2 separate regions of the Homo sapiens genome follow, and region 2 is linked to region 1. Evidence: fine-mapped expression QTL. A gene starts in region 1. The other region holds a variant in brackets. All regions are shown on one strand. Distances are between the middles of the regions.

Evidence for each region.
Region 2: its variant is fine-mapped to the expression of SPG11 in whole blood (TOPMed, PIP 0.93).

The regions. Positions count from the first base shown.
Region 1 is chr15:44,660,551-44,672,164 of GRCh38, reverse strand. It overlaps SPG11 (SPG11 vesicle trafficking associated, spatacsin), which reads left to right and starts at 8,503. Exons shown (of 40, transcript NM_025137.4): 1 at 8,503-8,774; 2 at 11,549-11,614. The coding sequence starts at 8,518. PATL2 (PAT1 homolog 2) reads left to right here. Exons shown (of 18, transcript NM_001387263.1): 9 at 9-150; 10 at 2,078-2,198; 11 at 2,291-2,388; 12 at 2,602-2,655; 13 at 2,752-2,885; 14 at 3,026-3,185; 15 at 3,683-3,823; 16 at 4,962-5,059; 17 at 5,624-5,773; 18 at 6,194-6,433. The coding sequence ends at 6,212. RefSeq lists enhancers at 5,077-5,176, 8,039-8,208, 8,249-8,728, 8,203-9,159, 9,269-9,408.
Region 2 is chr15:44,542,575-44,555,629 of GRCh38, reverse strand. It overlaps EIF3J (eukaryotic translation initiation factor 3 subunit J), which reads right to left. Exons shown (of 8, transcript NM_003758.4): 3 at 4,700-4,754; 4 at 4,108-4,199; 5 at 963-1,077. Among named protein-coding and RNA genes, the nearest start is that of EIF3J, 12 kb to the right of the region's middle. The variant A/G (reference allele first, on the strand shown) is at 9,214.

The DNA of each region.
Region 1 (11,614 bases):
GCTTAAAGTCCCCCAGCCAAGAAGCCTTGGTCTCAGCAGCCAGACCCCTATGCTAACCTCATGACCAGAAAAGAGAAGGACTGGGTGATAAAAGTGCAGATGGTGCAGCTGCAGAGTGCAAAACCCCGCCTGGATGACTACTATTACCAGGTGAGCCCCGCAGTACTCAGCCCAGCCTCTGACCTTGGGTCAAATGGGCCTGGACTCCCGGGCCCGCTCTGATCCTCTCTTCGGCTCATAGAGGTCATGTCTGTTCAGGTGGGAGAGAGAATCACTACAGGATGGGGGCCGTATTTCTAAAATTGACATCCCAAACTCATTTCTCTCTATCTTCCTACATTTCAGCCAACTAAGATTATTTCCAGTTCCCCAAACACACTTGGGTTTTGTCTCTACTCTTTGCTAAGAATTTTCCCTGTTCACCCAGGAAATATGGATTTTCCCACCTGTGTATGCTGAGAAATGTCTTGTTATATTCATCTACTTTGACTTTTTAGATCTAAAGCACAGGGATGTTATAAATAGTGGGATTCAGTTTGTTTAATTGAAAGAACGACAGCAGATATTTTTACTCATTTTCCCCTGCTTCCTTCTGCCTTTATTTATGGGGCAAGTCTTTATCCACAAGTTTTTGGGTTGTCTAGGCTGTTATCTTTCTTTTTCTTTTTTTTTTTTTGAGACAGAGTCTCCCTCTGTCATCCAGGCTGAAGTGCAGTGGCACCATCTCAGCTCACTGCCACCTCCACCTCCAGGGTTCAGGTGATTCTCCTGCCTCAGCCTCCCAAGTACCTGGGATCACAGGCATGCACCACCATACGCAGCTAATTTTTGTATTTTTAGTAGAGATGGGGTTTCACCATGTTGGATAGGCTGGTCTTGAACTTCTGACCTCAAGTGATCCACCCGCCTCGGCCTCCCAAGTGCTGAGATTACAGGCATGAGCAACCGCGCCCGGCTGGCTGTTTCACTTTCACCTCAACATCTGGGAGCCTCCCATCCAGTGCCCCATCCTTATTGCCTTCTCATTTACATTAGGTATTTTTCCTTTCTTTCCACCAAGCTTCAAAAGCCCTCCTTTTTCTGCGAGGGTCACTGAAAGTGAAATAGTTTTGTATTCTTGCCTTTTTGGCATTGCTTCTAAACAAAAGAGCCTTTTTCAAATCCTTGTTTGGCTTGTCAGTGGATTTTAGTTTAGGATTTCTCAACTTTAAGAAAATGTCAGAGCTGCTGAGCAAATCCACAGAAGTATAAAACTGGCCTAGAGGGCAACTGACAAACACTTCCCTATAGCTAGTTCTGTGCTTAAACCTCTGGATGGCCTTCATACCATCAGATAACTGATTTTTAGAAAGCACAGGTGAGATCACAAGATTAAATGGGGAAGTGGGGAGGACAGGTGGTATGCAGTGTGTGGGTACTAGAGCATGAGGAATGCAGGAAGGTTACAGACGCTGGAACAGGTTTGCTCACTGGCTCTCCACTTTGCTCTCTGACCTTTCATCAGACTTGGTGGTGGTATCTGGTCTTTAAGTATTTGGTATGTGAATTCCAAGATGGGTGATGTGGGGCCCAGGGTGCTTAAGACACTTTAGAATAACTGCAAGGAGGGCCTAAGGTGCCAGCATCATTTCTGGAATGATTGTTGTAGGAAAGAGTGTTAAGAGGCCGTGCTTGTCTGGGCACAATGGCTCGCCTGTAATCCCAGCACTTTGGGAGGCCAAGGAGGGCTGATTGCTTGAGTCCAGGAGTTCAAGACCAGCCTGAGCAACATGGTGAAATCCCACCTCTACAAAAAATACAAAAATTAGCTGGGCATGGTGGCACGTGCCTGTGGCCCCAGCTACTGAGGAGGCTGAAGTGGGAGGATCACTTGAGCCAGGGAGGTTGCAGTGAGCCAGAGATTGCGCCACTGCACTCCAGCTGGGTGACAGAGGGAGATGCTGTCTCAAACAACAAAACTTATAACACACACAAAAAAACTAAACTTAAGAGGCTGCACTTGAGAAACTTAATTCTAAATTCAAAAGATGAATATAAGGTGTTTTGTTTTTTTGTTTCCTATTCCGTGCATTCTCAGGAATATTACCAGAAGCTAGAGAAGAAGCAGGCAGACGAAGAGCTACTTGGACGAAGAAACCGGGTTGAGTCCCTCAAGCTGGTAACGCCTTACATTCCGAAGGCAGAGGCTTATGAGTCCGGTAGGGTCAGGGCTGACCTGCTGACTTGGGCTGGGCATCTGGGTGGACAGAGTGTGGGAGGGGGAAGGAAATGTGCCTCTCTTCTCATGCAGTGGTCCGAATCGAGGGTTCCCTGGGCCAGGTAGCTGTGTCGACATGCTTCAGCCCTCGCCGAGCTATTGATGCGGTACCCCATGGAACTCAAGAGCAGGTGGGAGCACTATCTTCCCAGACATTTTTCTCTCCCCTTTGGAAGAAGGGTCTAGAACATTCTTGTGTTTAAGACTGTGACCGAAGAAGGAGGAAGAAGTGTGATCAGACTTTGTTTCTAGCCTTTCCAGCTCAATCTCTAGCTAGTTGGGGGCCTGGGCTAGGGCTGTGGCAGTGGCAGTGTAGCTGATAGCTGGTGACTCCCTTCTCCTAGGATATAGAAGCTGCAAGCAGTCAGAGGCTTCGGGTATTATACCGGATTGAGAAGGTGAGATATCAGTTCCTTAGGGACGAGTTCCAAACCTACCTTTGAGAATGAGATATTACCCAAATTTACCTCTTTTTTCCACCCTCAAATTCCCAGATGTTCCTTCAGTTACTAGAAATAGAGGAAGGCTGGAAGTATAGGCCTCCACCGCCCTGCTTTTCTGAGCAGCAAAGCAACCAGGTTGAGAAGCTCTTCCAGACCTTAAAGACCCAGGAGCAGAACAACCTGGAGTGAGTGTGGGAGGGTTCCACCTCAGCCCAGGAAGGGAAGGAGCAGCAAAGACACTGGTCTTGCTTCTGCCTCTCCTTTGTGGCATGTAGCCCTCTCCTCTATGCAGAGCTCTGAAAATGTTCTCCTCTCTCCCTTGCAGAGAGGCAGCAGATGGCTTCCTGCAGGTGCTCTCTGTGAGGAAGGGGAAGGCCCTGGTGGCCCGGCTGCTCCCCTTCCTGCCCCAGGATCAGGCTGTTACCATTCTTTTGGCTATCACCCACCATCTGCCCCTCCTGGTCCGGAGGGATGTGGCTGATCAGGTACTGTGGCATTGAGTGGAGAAGAGGATGGTCTCCTGAATAGGTTAGGGGTCATTCCTCCCCTCCAGTCCCCACATGCCCCAGAGATGCCAGAGAAGGTGCTGGGCACAGCGAGGGATGCTGGCCTTGCCACCCTCAGGCAAGGAAGTTACAGAACTATTATAGGAACAGTGGATCATCTTCAGGTATGACGAACAAAAAGCAACAGGTGTATGGTTGCACAGGTGTCAGTGTGCTGAGGAGGTCTGAGTAAAAGATTAGGACGCCCTGATAAATGTTGAGCCCCTATCTACTTTTCTTAGAGAAGGATTCCTAGGACAAGTAGGTACCGAAGGTGTCAGTGTTGGGGATGGAGAGTCATAGTGGTGATAAGCCTGGTAAGTAACCTCACCAGGACGTGCCAAAGACAGGTCAGCGAGGGAAGGGACTGTGGAAGCAAGGTAAGGGGAGGTGAAGTTGTAGTGGAATTTGGGAGGTGCTTACTGATCTTCTTGCAGGCCCTACAAATGTTATTCAAACCTCTGGGCAAATGTATTAGTCACTTGACCCTCCACGAACTCCTCCAAGGACTTCAGGGATTAACGCTGTTGCCACCTGGCTCCTCAGAGCGGCCAGTCACCGTGGTGCTTCAGAATCAGGTAACATGTCTAGGAGGCTTTTTTCCATAGATGGCTTTCAGGTTGGTATCACTGATAAGGGGTAAGTTGGGGGACAGTCTCATCTCTACACAAATCTTATCCTCTGCAGTGCTTCTCTATTTCTAGTAAGCACATGATCACCTGGAAGCTTATTAAACCCAGCTCCTTGGTCCCACTCAGTCATTCAGTAGGTCTGGGGTGGGGCCCATGCACCTGCTCTGCTTTTCTAATAAGCTCCCTGATTGCTGCTGATGTGAGTCTCTAAAGCAGGTCTCCAAACTCTTGTATACCCCTTTCAGTAAAAAAATATTCTAAACCACACTACCCATGTGTTTATAAATCAAATACATGTAACACTAGTAATAATAGGTACATAATAAATATTTTCTTTTTTTATTTTTTAGATAGTCTCGCTCTGTCACCCAGGCTGGAGTACAGTGGCACGATCTTGGCTCACTGCAAGCTCTGCCTCCTGGGTTCACGCCATTCTCCTGCCTCAGCCTCCCAAGTAGCTGGGATTACAAGTGTTCGCCAACACACCCAGCTAATTTTTGTATTTTTAGTAGAGACATGGTTTCACCATGTTGGCCAGGCTGGTCTTGAACTCCTAACTTTAAGTGATTCGCCTGCCTCGGCCTCCCAAAGTGCTGGAATTACAGGCATGAGCCACTGCGCCCAGCCAATAGGTATATAATAAAAGACAGAAAATTTTAAAGAATGAGACTCTAGATGTGAAAATTTTGATGCTCTCTTCTAATATCCCAGTGGGTTATCTCATGTATGCCATACTGAAGGTCTTTGCTTAAAGAAGTGCCTCTTAAAGTGGGGTCCACAGACTACCTGCCTCAGATTCCTGGATGCATTCCCGATCTCCTACTCCTAGGAGTTAAGCCTAGAAGTATGCATTTAATCAGCTCTCCAAGAGTGTCTTTTGGAAAAGTTCAGAGCAGTGATTCCTATGGAAAGGGTTAGAGAGTTCTTTGGCTCACCAGTGTAAAACCTGACAGCACTTGTGGATATTTTGAGCTCTATCTCTAAATGTGAACCTGTCCTTTAGTTGGGAAGATAAGAGTCAGGAAAGCACCAAATGCCGAGTGTGAACTCATTTTGCTCTGGAATATATATATGTCCCTTGCAGTTTGGAATATCTTTGCTCTATGCCCTGCTGAGCCATGGGGAGCAACTGGTATCGCTGCATTCTTCCCTAGAGGAACCCAACAGTGACCATACAGCTTGGTAAGATCATAAAGGCCTTGTAAATACTATCTAGTACCCTCGGGATGTGCAGACTGAGCCAGGTGAAGTATTTCCTGAGGCATTTTCAAGTACTGAGGAAGAGGTTGGATAGAGAAAGTAGTAGCAGTGTTGTAGCTGTTCTGCTTTTTTTCTATAGTGCCCTAGAGTTTCGGTTTCTTCTAGGAGGCAGTATAACATAGTACCTAAGGGGACAAGCTTTAGATTTTAAAAAGACCTACGTTTGAATTCTGGCTGTATCACTTACTAGCAATATAACTTTAGGGCAAGTTCTTTCACTTCTCACTTCTCTTAGTTTGTTTCTTTATCTACAAACTAGGGATGATGGTATTAACCCCTCATAGTTCTTAAGATTAAATAGGAAGGGAAATGTGTAAAGCACTAAGCATTGCTTGGCACGTACCAAACATGCAAATGTTACCTCTGAATTGCTACCTGGGGGTGGGGGACAATGGTAGTAGTAACGGAAAGATAATAAGAAACCTTGGCCCTGAGTCTGTTTCTTAAGCAAATCTATTTGCTTATATTTATATTTATGCTCTCTAGGACAGACATGGTGGTTCTGATTGCCTGGGAGATAGCCCAAATGCCTACAGCCTCTCTGGCAGAACCCCTAGCTTTCCCCAGCAACCTACTTCCCCTGTTCTGTCACCACGTGGACAAACAATTGGTTCAGCAGCTGGAGGCCAGGATGGAGTAAGTAATGGCAGAAACAAGGTCAAAGCCCCTTGTTCAAGCCCAATCTATGTTCTGTTACTTGCTTCACTACTTCCTTCTTCTAAATTATGAGCATGAAGGATCATGTGTTTTTAGAAGTGGTTCTACACACTGACATTTACTGAGTAACCATTCTTGACTAAGTCTTCAGCCAACCTTTTATTCCAGGTGCTTTGGTCATTTATAGTGCTAACCTATTTGAGGGCAAGAATTAATTTAAGAACCTGAATTATTCATTCAAGAAATACTTGAGGGACAACTATTCTAGGATATAAGCATGAATAACATGGTCATCTCTGTCCTCAGAATTACTGCTAGAAAGAGTCAGATACTAATTAAATCATATAAATACTTGCAAAGTAGAATTGTGCTTGCAGTTAATATCTGTTCTCTTTATAGGTTTGCCTGGATTTACTGATCTGTTTGTTCTGGAATACGTGTATGTGGGAAGTTGAATCATCAGACACTAGCTACATAGACTATGTTTACAGGGATCCAGAGAGTCTGAAGACATTTCTTATGCCTTTATATATTGGAGAACCCTTCCCCATTTTCATATCCTTTCTTCAAAAATCTAAATGATGTGCCTAAAAATAAGACATGGCATAATAAGGTATAATTAAAGAGATAATAGAATGATGTGTTGGAACTTGCTTGTAAGTTAAAACCTGTAATGAAGGCTATCCTATGTGTGAGTGCTCCAGGAATGTCCTTTTTCTTTTTTTTTTTTTTTTTTTTTTTGAGACAGGGTCTTACTCTGTCACCCATGTGGGAGTGCAGTGCCACCATCATGGCTTACTGCAGCATTGACCTCCAGGCTCAAGTGATCCTCCCACCTCAGTCTTCTGAGTAGCTTGGATTATAGGCATGTGACACCACACCCAGCTAATATTAAAAAAAAATTTTTTTTGGCCAGGTGCAGTGGCTCATGCCTGTAATCCCAGCACTCTGGGAGGCCGAGGTGGGCAGATCACCTGAGGGTCGGGAGTTTGAGAACAGCCTGACCAACGTGAAGAAACCGCGTCTCTACTAAAAATACAAAATCAGCCAGGCATGGTGGCACACGCCTGTAATCCCAGCTACTCGGAGGCTGAGGCAGGGGAATCGCTTGAACCCAGGAGGCAGAGGTTAGAGGTTGCAGTGAGCCAAGACTGTGCCATTGCACTCCAGCCTGGACAACAAGAGCAAAACTCTCAAAAAAAATTTTTTTTGATTTTTTTTGTAGAGACAAGGGTCTCCCTATGTTGGCAAGGGTGGGCTCCAGTGATCCTCCCAACTTGGCCTCCCAAAGTGCTGGGATTTACAGGCATGAGAAGACTGTCCTGATTATAAGGGACAAGGCTTTGTTGTAGCTAACACAAGTGTAACCTTAGAAATTGCTTTAACGTTGCCATTTTTTACAGAAAGAACACAGCCCCAGCTAAGCTTAGAAGGTTGAATATATCTCCCTTGTGATAGAAAACGTTTGGTTTCAGCTGGGCACGGTGGCTCACGTCTGTAATCTTAGCACTTCCAGGCTGGGACAGGTAAATCACCGGAGGTCAGGAATTCGAAACCAGCCTGGCCAACATGGTGAAACCCCGTCTCTACTAAAATACAAAAATTTAGCTGGGTGTGGCGTGCGCCTGTAATCCCAGCTACTGGGAAGGCTGAGGCAGAATTGCTTGAGCCCAGGAGGCGGAGGTTGCAGTGAGCCGAGATCCCGCCACTGCACTCCAGCCTGAGTGACAAAGCGAGACTCCATCTCAAAAGAAAAAAAAAGTTTGCTTTTATTTTGACAAATAAGGTCATGCATTGATCAACAAATGCGGGAGTACCTTTCATGAAACATGCACTGTTTTAGGTACTAGCCAGGACAGTGGTGAGCAACAAAGTCCTTGCTCTTTTGAAGTTTACATTCTTATTGGACAGGAACTGGCAGAAAATATCAAGTAGTGATAAATACTATGATTAAAAACAAAACTAGGTGAGAGACTGCAGTAGAAGGGACCTTAGGTTGAATGGCTTGGGGAGGCCTGTCAATAGAGGTTACATTTATGCTGAAATGTTCTGAATGTGGAAGATGTGTTAAGAAGGTACAGTTGTCTTTTAGGAGACTTTACCAAAATACCTATTCAACCCCTCTTCTCACCTCAAACTCTTTGCTCCTCTCCTTCTCTTGATCTTGGATCATACTTCCCTGAGAAAACAGACAGGAGCTCTCTACCATCTCCACCCCTTACTTACCCCGTCTCTCTGACTGTTACAATGGATATTATTTGACTTCAAATTTCGGGTCAACACCCTTACTATGGATCCACACTGTAAGACGGTCCATGCTACCAAGGAAATGGCACCACCCCAGAGCCTGTAAGCGAACAGCACAATAAGAAAAGCGAAGAAAAGAGGCAGGAACTGGGTTCCAAGGGAGCTGGAGGCAGCTGGACCAAGAAGGCAAAGAGCAATGCCACAGAGCGAGAACGGCTGCAACGGCCTGCTACGCTAAGCTAGGCCTTCAAGCATGCCAGAGCAGTTAAGCAGAGTGGGACTGGCGTCAGGGCAGATGTGGCTTTGCTAGAGAGGCTGGTACTGCCCCCCACAGGAAACGAATGGAATCGACCGGAGACAGCCGAGAGGTCTCCGCGGGAGTCACGAGGCCGAGCGGGAGCCGCTACGTACACCGCGCATGCCCACGACGCAGTCAGGTTCCGGCGAAAGTGACCGGAAGTAACCGCCGGGCCAAGATGGCTGCAGAGGAAGGGGTCGCGAGTGCTGCTTCCGCCGGCGGTAGCTGGGGCACCGCGGCCATGGGGCGGGTTCTACCGATGCTGTTGGTGCCAGTCCCCGCCGAGGCGATGGGGCAGCTCGGCTCCCGGGCGCAGCTGCGCACACAGCCGGAGGCTCTGGGGAGCCTGACGGCTGCGGGCAGCCTCCAAGTGCTTTCTTTGACGCCTGGCAGCCGGGGCGGGGGTCGCTGCTGCCTGGAGGGCCCCTTCTGGCAGTAAGTGCTGAGGGAGAGTTGGGCCGTTGGGGGAGTCCAGAGCCTAGGCTCGGCTGACTGAGCCCCAAGGGCTCACGCCGAGGCCTCCCTGCAGCCATAGAGGTGGCGGGAGAAGGGTGCCAGCTGCAGGAAACGCCCCAGAGGCGAGCGTGGTTTCCTCACAGAACCTTTCCCCCGACCTGAAACGCTCGCCTCGTTGCATTCTGGCAGCCCAGCTCTCCTGTTCCGGGTGGGCGGAGACGGCACCCAGCTCCATTGCCACCTGCGGCGAACCCGGAACGGGTCTCAGCTGAGGCGCTGATTCTTTCATTATTCAACACAGGTTGATTAACTGTCACAGGGTCGAGTCCCATGCCCATTTCTTTCAGTTAAAGATGCCAGCTGAGGATCATCTCTAATTTGAATCATCCTGATACTTTTTTCATGTCCTTGAAGTGAATAGCGTTTTCTTTCACATGTAGTCCTCTTCTTCAAGGACAGAGTCCAGTTTGTCCCTTCATTTATTCAGCAAATATTGTGTGCTTGCTGTTACATAGGAGCAGTGCCTAAAAAGTTGAGTAAGACACTTCTTTCTTGCGAGGCGCGCATGTTTGGGGAAGACAAACATGATTACAATAATGCATTACTTTGTACTTCCGTAACTCTTGGTTCAGTACTTAAGAGTTTACATCATAAAGTTTGGGAACGCCCTCTTAGTGTTTTGAGTGGGCTGCTGCTTTTTTTTTTTTTTTTTTTTTTTTAAAGATAAGGTCGCTGTCGCCCAGGCTGGAGTGTAGTGGCTCAGTCACGGTTCACGGCAGCCAGCCTTGACCTCCCGGGCTCAGCCTCCCCAGCAGCTACGACTACAGGCGTGCACCACCAGGCCTGGCTAATTTTTCTAGTTTTTGTAGAGATGAGGTCTCACTGTGTTGCCTAGGCTAGTCTCAAGCTCCTGGGCTCAAGTGATCCCGCCTCTCCCTGCCAAAGTGTTGGGATTACAGGTGTGAGCCACTGAGCCTGACCTGTTCTTTTAATAATTATTAATAGTAAGTATTTTCACAACTCTTTCTTTAAGATGAGTAGCCAAAAGGTGTCTTATTAATCTTGGAATCTCCAGCTCCTCTAACAGCTCCTGACATTTAGAGATTCATTTGATACATCAGTGAATGCTTAACTCTTCTGGGTTTGTCTTCTCTACCCTTGATGTCTAGTTGCTCGAAAGAGGAATCTCTGCGTTTAGTTTATAAACTTATTATAAACTAAGTTATTTATAAACTAGTTTAGGGGAAATTAGTTTATTTAGCAGTATCAAGTACCTATGAATGTGGCTCTGTAAAGAGAGGAATGGGGCAAAGAAAAGCCGAAATCTTTAGGTGTTTGAGAACCCAGCAGGGAAGGTAAGACCGAGATGAAATAAAGGGGGCGTTCATATGCTAGTTCATGAAATTAGAGGGGAGGAGGACCAAGAAAGGACTTTTTAACTTTTTTAGTTGAATTGAATTTTAATTCAGTTAAAATACTTCATAGGTTAAAAATAAGGGCATGTTTATAGTATTTAGAGTTTACTTCCTACTTTTTCAAAGTACATAGGTCTTTTTAATATTGTTGAAATTACATCATATATCTTGTTTATTGCATTGAAAATTTCCTGTCTTTCCATGTGGCAATATTGTCCCTATGCTAATGATGTACTCTACCTTTTAAGTATATCTTAGTTTAACCTTTTGTATATTTGACATTTAGGTTATTTTCTACATTTATCAATATGAACAGTCAGAAAAATGTCTTTTTTTTACCTAATAAGGACATATTAATACTATAATAGTATAAAACTACTATAGTAGTATAAAATACATAATAGTACATAATACTATTATGTACTCTTATTAGTTTTATTACTAATTGAATTAAATCATGTATGTACCACAGTAGTTTTATATACTACTCTAGAAGTATAAAACACTACTTCTGTAGAAGCAAGTTTCTTAAAAGATGAAATTTTATCAGCATGGTATAGCCTCACCTCTTTCATTGTGTTATTTTCAAATCTGGGGCTTTTATTTGTAATGTGTAATTTAGTTTTAATATTTAATTTGAAGCTGAAACACCATCAGTCTTGCCAGTGTTGTTATTTTGACATTTCAGTTTAAGAATTCCGTAACTCTACCGTTTAGTAATGGTAGTCATTAGCTACATGTGGCTGTTAAAGTAAAAAATTTGGTTCCTCAGTTGCCCCACATTTCAAGTGTTCAGTAGCTGCATGTGGCTATTGACTACTGTATTGGGCAATGCTAATATAAAACATTTCCATCACGGAAGGTTCTATTAGGCAGAGTTTTTCAAGATTTGGAATCGTCAGTCTATAAATACAAATAATCACTTTCTTTTAAAAGTCAAAACATTTAAGTTATCAAAAGCCTATTTTATTGTGAATACCACCTCATATAAATAATATACATATTTTGTTGTTGATACCTACCCTTGATCATGACAGTTTGTTTAAACATACTAGTTGGGATTAAAGATGAAAGAATAAATGGAGCCATCATTTCTTGCTCTGAGCCCCACATTTTTGTTTTTTACCACCCACTCCTGTATTTTCGTGTTGGTGTAAAAGGGAAGCGGGAAGAGGAGGGAGGTCCTAGAGCAGTTTATGTTCTCTTAGATTGAAGTGTAGAATGACTATACCAGGTCAACTAAACTGTTCTCTACTTATTCAACCCTTCTACCCCCACCATTGTGGGTAAATATTATTGCGGATATAGAATATAATAAATCTAAACTTTTTTTCTTAGCTTTCTATGGGAGGATTCTCGTAACAGCAGCACACCAACTGAAAAGCCCAAACTGCTCGCTCTTGG
Region 2 (13,055 bases), 120 kb after region 1:
TTTTACCATCCTAGGAAGACACATATTAACAGCCAAGAGCTCTCTATAATTAGATGAGTGCAGTTAAGACCTGCCAAGCATACAATGGTGCACAGGAGCATTCACATCAACTCCTGGTATTTGTACAGATCCACTGACAGATAAGGTCATACTTCCTCATGAAAAGGAAAACAATCACTACAGTCAGCCTGTTGATCTGTTTCAGAGTAGAGAAAGTATGAAAGTGGGGGAGGGGTATCAGAATAACTAGAGCTTTCCTTCTTGGTTATAAATTTCAGTGATTTAACTGTTTCAACATGATCTTCTACTCTGAAAAGTACTCAACAGGTAACGATAACTTGGTTAAATGAAGCGAGGGCTTTGACTATTTCTCTAGCCATGTCTCTTACTCTGGAACACTCTGAATTTATCTATTTATAGGATCCTGCACTTTTATCTCACGCACTAACCACAGCTGCAGACACCGCACAAAGAAATGGAGGCCCTCTAAAGATAGGGCATGGTAAGGGCAAAGAAGGGTTGCAGAAGGAAATGACACTGAGCACAAGAAGGCACAGCAAAAGCTGCATGCCTCTCACCTGGAGCAACATCCTACTGTCTAAGTCTTAAGACAACAGGACAGCCCTACAGTCCATTTCAAAGCTACAGACCTCACATTTCATGCAAATTTCATCCAGCTGATAAAAATATTCTATGCAGTAGTGTACTTCATCTGAGTCTACTCCTTTTTGCCCTTCTTGCATTGCTATAAATGACTTATCTTAATAATCTTTTACTCAAAACAATTATTCAAAAATCTGAACATGTAATGAAATCTCAAATATACACAGAGATTAAAAACTGCTTTCTAATATCTACATTAGCCAGTATGTTTCTTTTAAGAAAAGGAGATGTTTTCTGAACTTTCTGGGTCTTCACCTGTAACAGTTTAATACTGTATTGCAATCATAATCCCGTCTTACCAAAAGTTTCCTTTGCTAATTCGAGGTCTGACTCTTCCTGTAATTTCTTTAGCCGCAGTTTATCTGCTAATTGTTCTTCTGGTGTTAGCACTTTAGGTTCTTCGGGTTCTTCTAACTAAAATGAGACAAAAGTTTTTAAAAAGCACAGGGATTATGATGCACTCAGTACCTTTCTGTATTGTACGAATTCTTAAATAAGCGTATATAATAACAAATAAAAGTGAACACTGGTAATTACTGTTTCAGGCATTCTTCTAAACACTTTAGTTTTTTTTTTTTTTTTTTTTTTTTTAGACAGAGCCTCACTCTGCCACCAAGGCTGGAGCACAGTGGCATGATCTTCGCTCATTGTAACCTCTGCCTCCTGGGTTCAAGTGATTCTCATACCTCAGCCTCCCGAGTAGCTGGGATTACAGGCGTGCACCACCACATCCAGCTAATTTTTGTAGTTTTAGCAGTGATGGGGTTTCACCATGTTGGCCAGGCCGGTCTTGAACTCCTGGCCTCAAGTGATCCGCCCATCTCAGCCTCCCAAAGTGTTGGGATTACAGGTGTGAGCCACTGCGCCCAGTCCACTTTAGGTATCCTTAACCCAATTTTAAAGATAAGCAATGGAGGCACAAAGAAACAACCTGCCCACAACTAAATAGAAGGTAACAGCTGGTAACGTGACAGATTTGTACCCAGGAAGACTGGGGTTACTTCTATAACCTTTTTTAAAAAAAGGAATTGAGACTGTGGACAAGGTAAAAATATTACTTTCATACACTGCTACTAAAACTATATTGGAAAACCCTTTCTAGGGCAACTTGGTAATATGGATCAAGTCTTAAATAATATTTTTACATGCTTTAATCAAGTATTCTACTTCCAGGTATTTACCTTAAGAAATAAGATGCACACAAATATGTAAGCCCAAGAATGTACATTAGAGTATTATTCATAATTTCAAATAAATTTACAGACAACCTAAATGTCCAACAGAATGGTTCAAAACATTTCCCCTTTTCATCATATTGTATAATTATAAAATTACCACTATAACAAATTTTAAAGATATAATAGTAGATGTCATTTGTTTCCCAAACCCACTTCTCTGACATGACAGTTGACAGCTTAGTGTATATCTATCTTCTCTTTATACTGGAATATAATTATTTTTTCTTTTTTTTTTTTGAGATGGAGTCTCGCTCTGTCGCCCGGGCTGGAGTGCAGTGGTGCGATCTCCGCTCACTGCAAGCTCCGCCTCCTGAGTTCACACCATTCTCCTGCCTCAGCCTCCCAGGTAGCTGGGACTACAGGCGCCCGCCACCACGCCCGTCTAATTTTTCTATTTTTTAGTAGAGACGGGGTTTCACCGTGTTAGCCAGGATGGTCTCGATCTCCTGACCTTGTGATCTGCCTGCCTCGGCCTCCCAAAGTGCCAGGATTACAGGCGTGAGCCACCACGCCTGGCCGTTTTCTTCTTTTTTTTTTTGTTTTGAGGCAGGATCTTGCTCTGTCACCTAGGCTGGAGTGTAGTGGCGCAGTCATGGCTCACTGCAGCCTCAACTTCCTGGGCTCAAGTGATTCTCCTACCTTAGCCTCCCAAGCAGCTGATACTACAGGCATGTACCACCACGCCCAGCTTATTTTTCTATTTTTTGTAGAGACGGGGTCTCCCTATGTTGTCCAGGCTGGTCTCAAATCCATGGACTCAAGCAATACTCCCACCTCAGCCTCCCAAAGCGTTGCAATTACAGGCATGAGCCACCACGCAGGCTGTTTTAATTTTTGAACCATGTAAATGTGTTCTGAAATAGAAAATAGGCCAGGCACAGTGGTTCACGCCTATAATCCTAGCACTCTGGGAGGCCAAGGCGGGTGGATCACCTGAGGTCAGGAGTTTGAGACCAACCTGGCCAACACGGTGAAATGCCATCTCTACTGATAATACAAAATTAGCTGGGCATGGTAGCACATGCCTGCAGTCCCAGCTACTCGAAGACTGAGGCAGGAGAATCACTTGAACCCGGGAGAAGGTTGCAGTGAGCCAAGATCACGCCATTGCACTCCCGCCTGGGCGACTAGAGTGAAACTCCATCTCTAAAAAAAAAAAAAGAAAAGAAAAGAAATAGAAAATAGGCTGGACGTGGTGGCTCATGCTTGTAATCCCAGCACTTTGGGAGGTCGAAGCAGGCAGATCACTTGAGGTCAGGAGTTTGAGACCAGCCCGGCCAACATGGCGAAACCCCATCTCTACTAAAAATACAAAGATTAGCCAGGCATGGTTGCGTGTGCCTGTAATTCCAACCTGGGATGCTGAGGCATGACAATTGCTTGAACCTGGGAAGTGGAGGCTGCAGTGAGCCAAAATCACACCACTGCACTCCAGCCTAGGTAACGGAGTGAGACTCTGTCTAAAAACAAAAACAAAAAAAAACAAGCATATATTTCTGATCCTGTGCCAAAAAATCAAAAACAAATACATTTATATAGCACATGGCACAGAAATGAACAATTTTTATATTATGTTCAATATATACACTGCAAATAAAAACTAATCCTGGCCAGACGCGGTGGCTCACACCTGTAATCCCAGGACTTTGGGAGGCCGAGGCGGGTGGATCACGAGGTCAGGAGATTGAGACCATCCTGGCCAACATGGTGAAACCCTATCTCTACTAAAATACAAAAAATTAGCTCGCCGTGGCTCCTGTAGTCCCAGCTACTCAGGAGGCTGAGGCAGGGGAATGGCTTGAATTCGGGAGGCAGAGGTTGCACTGAGCCGAGATTGTGCCACTGTACTCCAGCCTAGCGACAGAGCAAGACTCCGTCTCCAAAAAAAAAAAACAAAAAACAACAACAAAAACTAATACTGCTGACTAGAATGAACTACAGGCACTGGCAAAAATCACTGACTGTAGTCACTGCACTATCATGACTATTCCTGAATGTTTGTGAAAACTTAAAAGACACTCATATATAAAACTGGGTTCTGTTTTTGCAAAAACCACAAATCAATTTGTTTTGGATTTTACCTATCTTATGGTATCCATTTACAGTCTTCACAGAGCCCTTCAAATTCCTAGGTAATATTTGCAGCCTGTTAGAAACTATACCACTACCGATGTGAGAATTCTGTATTTTAGAAAACAGAATTTACCCTCTTTTTAATTTCTTCTTGCCTTTTCTTCTGTTGCCGTTCTTTCTCTTTTATCTTCTCTGCTATTTTTTTCTTTTCTGAAATTTTTACCTCTAAAAGTAAAAAAAAGTTTTATTCAGTTATACTGAGTATTTTCCAGTTTATGGATGAGACAGACATGATACTTGTATACTATTAAGAGACCAAACCTTTCCCAGCTTCAAACAGTGATTTTTCTCACAAATAATGGGAAACTTCTGGGACTCTTCCTTCTCCTCTCTAATGTGACCCCTAAGATCCAAATATCTCTTCATATTTCCCCACCGTCCTATAGGCAGGGCTTAGATCATTCAACTATAATTAATGCCAGAACCTCTACCCTTTCCTACTAACAAGCACTCATACAGAAATACAGCAAGTATCTAATCTGATTATATTTTGAGGCGATAGAGAAAAGTTGCAGGGAAAACAGAATAAAGTGGGAATGGAAGGACACTTGGTTTCTAAATACCAAAATGTTCCATTTTGTGAGCGTTCTGTCATTTGTCTTAATACAAGTCACAAATGCTCAGCAAGACATAAAAACAAAAATGGAGGCGCCCCAGTGGCTCACCTGGTTTTACTTCTGCTTCCTCTTTTTTTTCATCATCATCGTCATCCCAGTTATCCTAAAGAAAAGGACTTCCATTAATAATTCTTGCATGTTTGCTTTTCTATGTGAACTTTATTATCAACTTGACTAACTCCAGAGAAATGTTTGTTGGTATTTTTTTGTACTGCATTAAATTTATAAATTAATGTAGGGGGAATTGACATCTTATAATGCTGAGCTGCCCTAACCAAGAATAAGAACTGTCTTTCCATTTGATCAAGTACATTTTTGTACCTTTCAGAAGTGTTTTAAAGTGATTTCCCTATTAGAGGCTCTGCGCATTTCTCTTTAGATTTATTCCTAAGTATTTCATCTTGTATGTTGCTATTATAAATAGGGTGTTTTCCTATTATGTCCTCTAGGTGGCTATTATTTGTGTATAAAAACCTATCGGCAAGACCCAGTCTCTGCAAAAAAAAAAAAAATTAAAAAATTAACTGGGCAACGTGGCATGTGCCTGTAGTCTCAGCTACTTGAGAGGCTAAGGTGGGAAGATCACTTGAGCCCAGGAGGTTAAGGCTGCAGTGAGCTATGATAGTGCCACTGCACTCTATCCTAGGCAACTCACTATCATAAAAACCCTGTCTCAAAACAAATAAACAAAAATGACTATTGGCTTTTTTATATGTTAATATCCTGCTACCTTACTGAATTCATTTATCACTTAAGTTAGATTTATCGTTGCTTCTCTAGGGTTTTACAGGTATGCTACCTTATCTGCAAACAAAAGATAGCTTTACTTCTCTACCAATCCTTAGGCCCTCACAAGTGATTTACCTAATTGGGCCAGCTAAACCTCTAGTGCAATGTTGAACAGCAGCAGAAGTAATGGGCATCCTTGCTTTCTTGATGGAAATGCCTCTATTGTTTCCCCATGAATTGCTATGCATCCCAACAAATTTATGCAATAAAATTTACCAGACTTTTTTTTTTTTTTTGAGACGGAGTTTCTTGCCCAGGCTGGAGTGCAATGTCACGATCTCAGCTCACTGCAACCTCCACCTCCTAGGTTCAAGCGATTCTCCTGCCTCAGCCTCCCCAGTAACTAGGATTACAGGCATACACCACCATGCCTGGCTCATTTATTTTTAGTAGAAATGGTTTTTTTTTTTTTTTTTTTTTTTTTTGAGACGGAGTCTCGTTCTGTCGCCCAGGCTGGAATACAGGGACGATCTCAGCTCACTGCAACCTCTGCCTCCCAGGTTCAAGTGATTCTCCTGCCTCAGCCTCCCGAGTAGCTGGGATTACCAGCACATGCCACCATGCCTGGCTAATTTTGTATTTTTAGTATAGACAGGATTTCACCATGTTGGTCACACTGGTCTCGAACTCCTGATCTCATGATCCGCCCGCCTCGGCTTCCCGAAGTGCTGGAATTACAGGCGTGAGCCACCGTGCCTAGCCCCAGTCTTTTCTTTCATTGCCTCTGGATGGATTTCAAGTCAATTAGAAAGTCTTTTCTTGTTTTTTTGTTGTTTTGTTTTGTTTTGTTTTGTTTTTGAGTTGGAGTTTTGCTCTGGTTGCCCAAGCTGGAGTGCAATGGCATGATCTAGGCTCACTACAACCTCCACCTCCCGGGTTCAAGCAATTCTCCTGCCTCAGCCTCCCAAGCAGCTGGGATTAGACATGCACCACCATGCCTGGCTAACTTTGTATTTTTAGTAGAGATGGGGTTTGTCCATGTTGGTCAGGCTGATCTCGAACTCCCAACCTCAGGTGATCCGCCCACCTCAGCCTCCCGAAGTGCTGGGAGTACAGGCATGAGCCACTTCGCCCAGCCAGAAAGTCTTTTCTTACACCTAAGAATTCACCCACAATTTCTTCTAGAATGTATAGGGTTTCATTTTTTTTTTTATTTAGATCTCTGATTTGGAGTTTTTTTCTTGTGTTATGATATGCAACATGGATCTAATTTCATTTTTTTCCCAAATGGCTACCCAGTTGTCACAGCATCATTTATTAAAAACCCTTTAATAAATAATGGTTTTTTTCCCTGGGCTATGGTTTGAATGTGTCCTCCAAAGTTCATGTGATGAAATCTCCAATCCAACAGTGTTGAGAAGTAGGGTCTTTTAGAAATGATTAGAGGCAAAGCCCTCATGAATGAATTATTAATACCTTTATATTAGGAGTAGATATCTGATAAAAGGATGAGTTCTGACACCTCCTGCAATCCTTTGTGCTCTTTTGCCCTTCTGCCCCAGGATAATAGAGCAAGAAGGCCCTCGCCAGATGCCAGCACCTTGATACTGGACTTCTCAGCCTCCATAACCATAAGAAATAAATCTGTTGTTTATACAATACCCAGTCTATTGCATTCTATTGCAGCAAAAAACATTTTAAGATACCTTGTGACTTACCATATACTAAATTTTCATATGTACTTGGTCTATTTCTGGGCTTTTGATCCTATCCCACTAGTCTACTGTCTCTCCATATAACGGTACCATACTGGGTTTTTTTGGTCTTGTTTTTTGAGACGGAGTTTCACTCTTGTCGCCCAGGTTGGAGTGCAATGGCGCGATCTCAGCTTACTGCAACCTCTGCCTCCTGGGTTCAAGTGACTCTCCAGCCTCAGCCTCTGGAGTAGCTGGGATTACAGGTGTCCACCATCATGCCGGGCTAATTTTTGTATTTTTAGTAGAGACGGGGTTTCTCCATGTTGACCAGGCTGGTCTCGAACTCCTGACATCAGGTGATCCTCAGCCTCCCAAAGTGCTGGGATTGCAGGCGTGAGCCACCATGCCCAGCCGGTACTGTTTTAATTACAGAGGCTTTACTTTAATGTCAGCTAGAGCTAGTCCTTCCTTGTAGGTTTTCAGATTTTTTAGTGTTTTCTTGGCCTTTCTTGCATGTTTTGTTTTTCCATATGAACCCTCATATCAACTTATCTAACTTCATAAGAAAGCTTCTCCATTAGCAGTTAGGACAACCTAGCTGAAATCAATAGCCTCTCTGAAAGTGATTCAGTTATTAATAAATAAAAACTGAGAGAACTTTATAGTTCTTACTTCCCCCCAAATGTAAAAAGCATCCTATACTCTGGCCAATAGCTCATTTATTTCAAGTAGTATTCCATACAACATAAGCCTGGTTAATGAATTAAGTCTATATAATTCTAAAGCCCACTATTAAAAAGGAGTCAGGCCGGGTGCGTGGCTCATGCCTGTAATCCCAGCACTTTGGGAGGCTGAGGTGGGCGGATCACGAGGTCAGGAGTTTGAGACCAGCCTGGCCAACATAGTGAAACCCTGTCTCTACTAAAAATACAAAAAATTAGCTGGGCGTGGTGGCAGACACCTATAATCCCAACTACTTGGGGGCTGAGGCAGGAGAATCACTTGAACCCAGGAGTGGGAGGTTGCAGTGAGCCAAGATTGTGCCACTGCACTCCAGCCCAGGTGACAGTGCGGCGAGACTTCGTCTCAAAAAAAAAAAAAAAAAAAAAAAAGAATCAAGGCCGGCTTACGCCTGTAATCCCAACACTTTGGGAGGCCAAGGCAGGCAGATCACCTGAGGTCGGGAATGCAAGACCAGCCTGACCAACATGGAGAAACCCCGTCTCTACTAAAAATACAAAATTAGCTGGGTGTGGTGGCACATGCCTGTAATCCCAGCTACTCGGGAGGCTGAGGCAGGAAAATTGCTTGAACCCAGGAGACAGAGGCTGTGGTGAGCCGAGATCGCGCCATTGCACTCCAGCCTGGGCAACAAGAATGAAACTCCGTCTCACAAAAAAAAGTCAACAGCTAATCAAGCCTTCATGGATCCCACTCTCTAACTCAGGGCACTTTAATCCCAGCACTTTGGGAGGCCGAGGCAGGCAGATCACTTGAGACCAGGAGTTCCGAGACCAGCCTGGCCAACATGATGAAACCCCGTTTATACTAAAAAATACAAAAATTAGGTGGGCATGGTGGTGCACGCCCGTAATCCTAGCCACTCAGGATGCTGAGGAACAAGAATCATTTGAGCACAGGAGGCGAAGCTGCAGTGAGCCAGGATCGAGCCACTGCACTCCAGCCTAGGCAACAGAGACTCTGTCTCAAAAAAAAAAAAAAAAAAAAAAAAAAAAGATCTATACTCTGTTTTTTCTATGCCTAACTCAATCATTGAGCTAAATATAAACCAATTATCAAACACAATTTTCTAAAAGCTCCACAGAACTTAGAAGGCTCAAGTTTAATAGGGACAGACACAGCCCTATGATTAAAGATGGCTTTAATCATAGGTAGCCTGGCCATTGTCTCAGCAGCCACCAGGCACACTATGACATGCCATTTGAAGCTGAGTGGCAAGATGGCAAAAGCAGGGCAAGAGGCCCTGATGCTACTAAAGAAGCAAAGGCTGACTAGTATGACTAATATGCCACAATATGACACCAAGCTTCTGGTTTCATAACACGACAGATCACAAATTTGTATCAGTCTAGGAATATAAACTAACCAAGCCTTGGTTCTTAATAAAAATCTCTA[A/G]GTCCAGTAAAGAAATTAAAAATTCAACATCCTGATTAAGGCTGTCATACAGTCTGCAAGCATAATTAAAGGAACTTTGTATTAAAAAGTAAGTGTATTTTTATATTCATCTTACTTCAGCAATTTAACCCACAGCTCGCAGTTTTAACAGATTGAAAGCAAACCAGCTAGTCATTATTTGAGTAACTGTGATACTAGAGTTAGAAATTAGAGATCAAACGTTTGTATTTCGCCGTTAGTTTGCTAAGTGCTATACATCACAGTACAAAAGGAACCAAAGAGCTAAAAATAAAAGTGAATTACTAGGCATTTTTTGTTGTTTAAATCTTCACAGAACACAGGAAGGCTGGATCTGTGAGTGATAGGGGGCAGTGTTTCAGATAGGAGGACCATTTGCTTACTTCCAGAAGATGCATATTTAAAACCCTTCTGAGAAACAGGTGTAGTAACAAGGTTAATTCTCACAACAGTCCTGTAAGAAGGTAGTGTTATTCCCCCATTTTAAAGAAAAGGAAACCCAGGCCCAGACATAGCCAACCCACAATCTCAGTGAAAAACTAAGGGACCTGCTCTGAATGGACCAAAGTTCTTTAAAGTGTCATAGGTATAAAGTTACAGTTAGAAGAATAAGTTCTGGTGTTCTATTACACAGTACGGTGATTATAGCTAATAACAATGTTATATATTTCAAGATAGTTCCATAAGAAAATTTTGAATGTTAACACCACAAAGAAATGATAAATGTTTAAAGTGATGAAATGGTAATTACAATGTATACATGCATTGAAACATCACAATATACCCCATAAATATGTACATTATTTGCCAATTATAAAAACTAATTTTAAAAAAGTTTTAAATAACTAAACATTTGACTGACCTTTTTATTGAAAATAAAATGATTTACTTTTTTAAAAAGCATGTTTTAAACACTTGCTTACAAAGTTCACGGTTTAGTAGAGTTCAATTCACTGTAATAAAGCAGCTTACAACACATCTTTAGAGTAACATGCTGAGATACATCCTTTAAATGTATACATGTAAACAGCTTCATTTAAGGCTTTAAACACAATGTTAAGGAAGGTCTTTAAAAAGCATGTTTTAAACACTTGCTTACAAAATTCACAGTCTGGTAAACAATTTAATTCGCTGGAATAAAGCAATTCCAATGCAATTCCAATGCAAAATAATAAAAATAAAAATAGTATTATAGTAAATATGACTTCTTCCCTGAGTCCTGAAGTATAAAATAACTAACTGGGAACTAAGTCCCTCTCCTGGGAACTCTGGGAATCTCATAAAGAGAAGGATTATTACACATATTAAGATATGCCCAGCTAGAGGTATACTGGTTACCAAACTTCTCACCTTAAATTGCCTGTAGTGGTTCTCTACTGATCTTTTTTTTTTTTTTGAGATGGAGTCTCACTGTGTCGCCAGGCTGGAGTGCAGTGGCGCAATCTCAGCTCACTGCAACCTCCGCCTCCTAGGTTCAAGCAATTTTCCTGCCTCAGCCTCCTGAGTAGTTGGGACTACAGGTATGCACCACCATGCCTAGCTAATTTTTGTGTTTTTAGTAGAGACCGGGTTTCACCATGTTGGCCAGGATAATCTTGATCTCTTGACCTCGTGATCCACCCACCTCAGCCTCCCAAAGTGCTGGGATTACAGGCGTGCCTGGCCCCTCCCACCTTTTTTTTTTTTTTTTTTTTTAAATGGAGTTTTGCTCTTATTGCCCAGGCTGGAGTGCAATGGCACGATCTCAGCTCACCGCAACCTCTGCCTCCTGGGTTCAAGCGATTCTCCTGCCTCAGCCTCCCAAGTGGCTGGGATTACAGGCATGTGCTACCACGAACTGGCTAATTTTGTATTTTTAGTAGAGATGGGTTTCTCCATGTTGGTCAGGCTGGTCCTGAACTCCCGACCTCAGGTGATCCACCCACCTCAGCCTCCCAAAGTGTTGGGATTACAGGTGTGAGCCACCACGCCTGGCCAGTTTTCTACTAATTTAAGAAACTGGGCCAGATGAGTTGGCTCACGCCTGTAATCCCAACACTTTGGAAGGCCAAGGTGGGTGGAATACCTGAGTTCAGGAGTTCAAGACCAGCCTGGCCAACATGGCAAACCCCTGTTTCTACTAAAAATACAAAAAAAATTAGCAGGGCGTGGTGGTGTGCACCTGTGGTCCCAGCTACTCGGGAGGCTGATGCCCAAGAATCACTTTGAACCCGGGAGGCAGAGGTTGCAGTGAGCCGAGATCACGCCACTGCACTCCAGCCTGGGTGATAGAGAAGGCCTCCGTCTAAAAAAAAAAAAAAGAAAAGAAAAGAAAAGAAAAAAGAAAAAAACTGGTCTGCAAGCCTCTGGTAGTAAGAGGTCAAGAAGGAAGAAGTATGGCTGAAAATAAGGAGCTCCATCTCAATACCTCCAAGGTAAAGAAACAAACTCAACACAGGAGCATTTTTATTTAATGTTGATGCTCTTCAGTTACCCTTCCCAGAAAAACATAACCCCCACCCCACCCATATCACTGCTCCCTCAGTACATTCACACCAACTCTATGTCCACCTCTATCCCTGTCCCTAGTTTCTCCCATCAAAGCATAAACCTTACCCCAGACACACATCAATGCAGACATAATGAAGCTACCTAGACATTCCCTACTCCATCACAGAATGGATTTTAGTAGCAAAAGAAGTGATTCTGGCCAGGCGTGGTGACTCATGCCTGTAATCCCAGCACTTTGGGAGGCCAAGGCAGGCAGATCACGAGGTCAAGAGATCGAGACCATCCTGGCCAACATGGTGAAACCCCATCTCTACTAAAAATACAAAAATTAGCTGGGTGTGGTGGCGCACACCTGTAGTCCCAGCTACTTGGGAGGCTGAGGCAGGAGAATCGCTTGAACCCAGGAGGCGGAGGTTGCAGTAAGCCGAGACTGCGCCACTGCCCTCCAGCCTGGAGACAGCGAAACTCCATCTCAAAAAAAAAAAAAAAAAGTGGTTCCTATCAACATGTACCAAGAAGAGCCATGACATCTGCTCCTCAATTCATAAAAGGACCATCCAAACCTTGACTGTCACTCTCTCCCCAAAGTGCTTACAAGTCTGCCCTGAAGTTACTACCAAACTAGCACTAAGCCCCTAAAGAAAGGAGCATAGTAAGTGTCAGCAAAAAGAGACTGGTCACACTTCCAAACAGATGTAATTATAAAAGCAAAAGGCCAGGTAGCTTTCCCCAGGAAGTTAGAGTTTTTGTTTCCATAGTTATAAAATTAAGTGTCTGAAAAGTAGATTTAAGGTAGAATGTTCACCACGCTGCTTCAAAAAATATGCCCAATTTTTTGTAAACATTAGAAGTTTGTAAATTCCAGCAGCAAATTCAGATAAAATGTAAAAAGGCTTCCTAGAGAAACAGCTAAAATTAACACTTAAAATAGGGAGCAAGTCTACAACTCACTTCAAAGAGCCCTAAATGGTTATTTGGTTCAAGAGACTACCTATGAACATCCAATTAAATCCTTTACCCAATTATTTTTGGTAGCCAATTAATCTTTCAACTATAATATCCAATTTATCTTCAAAAGAATCACCCAGGCTGCTCTCCTAAAATGGCTAGCTTCTTAGAATAGGGCCTGTTTATAAACTACTTGCTTATCTATACTCTTGCCCTGCAGATACACACCCATCATTTAAGCTATTTCTATGAAAGAGATGGCTGCTTTTTAACTTTAAAACTTGCTTCCCTAATTGAACACAACTAAGTATCAGAAGCAAAGCAGAAAACTTTATATCTTGCTTTCTTTTTATTTCTAACAATGTGGCCAGTAGTTAGCTGGTTCT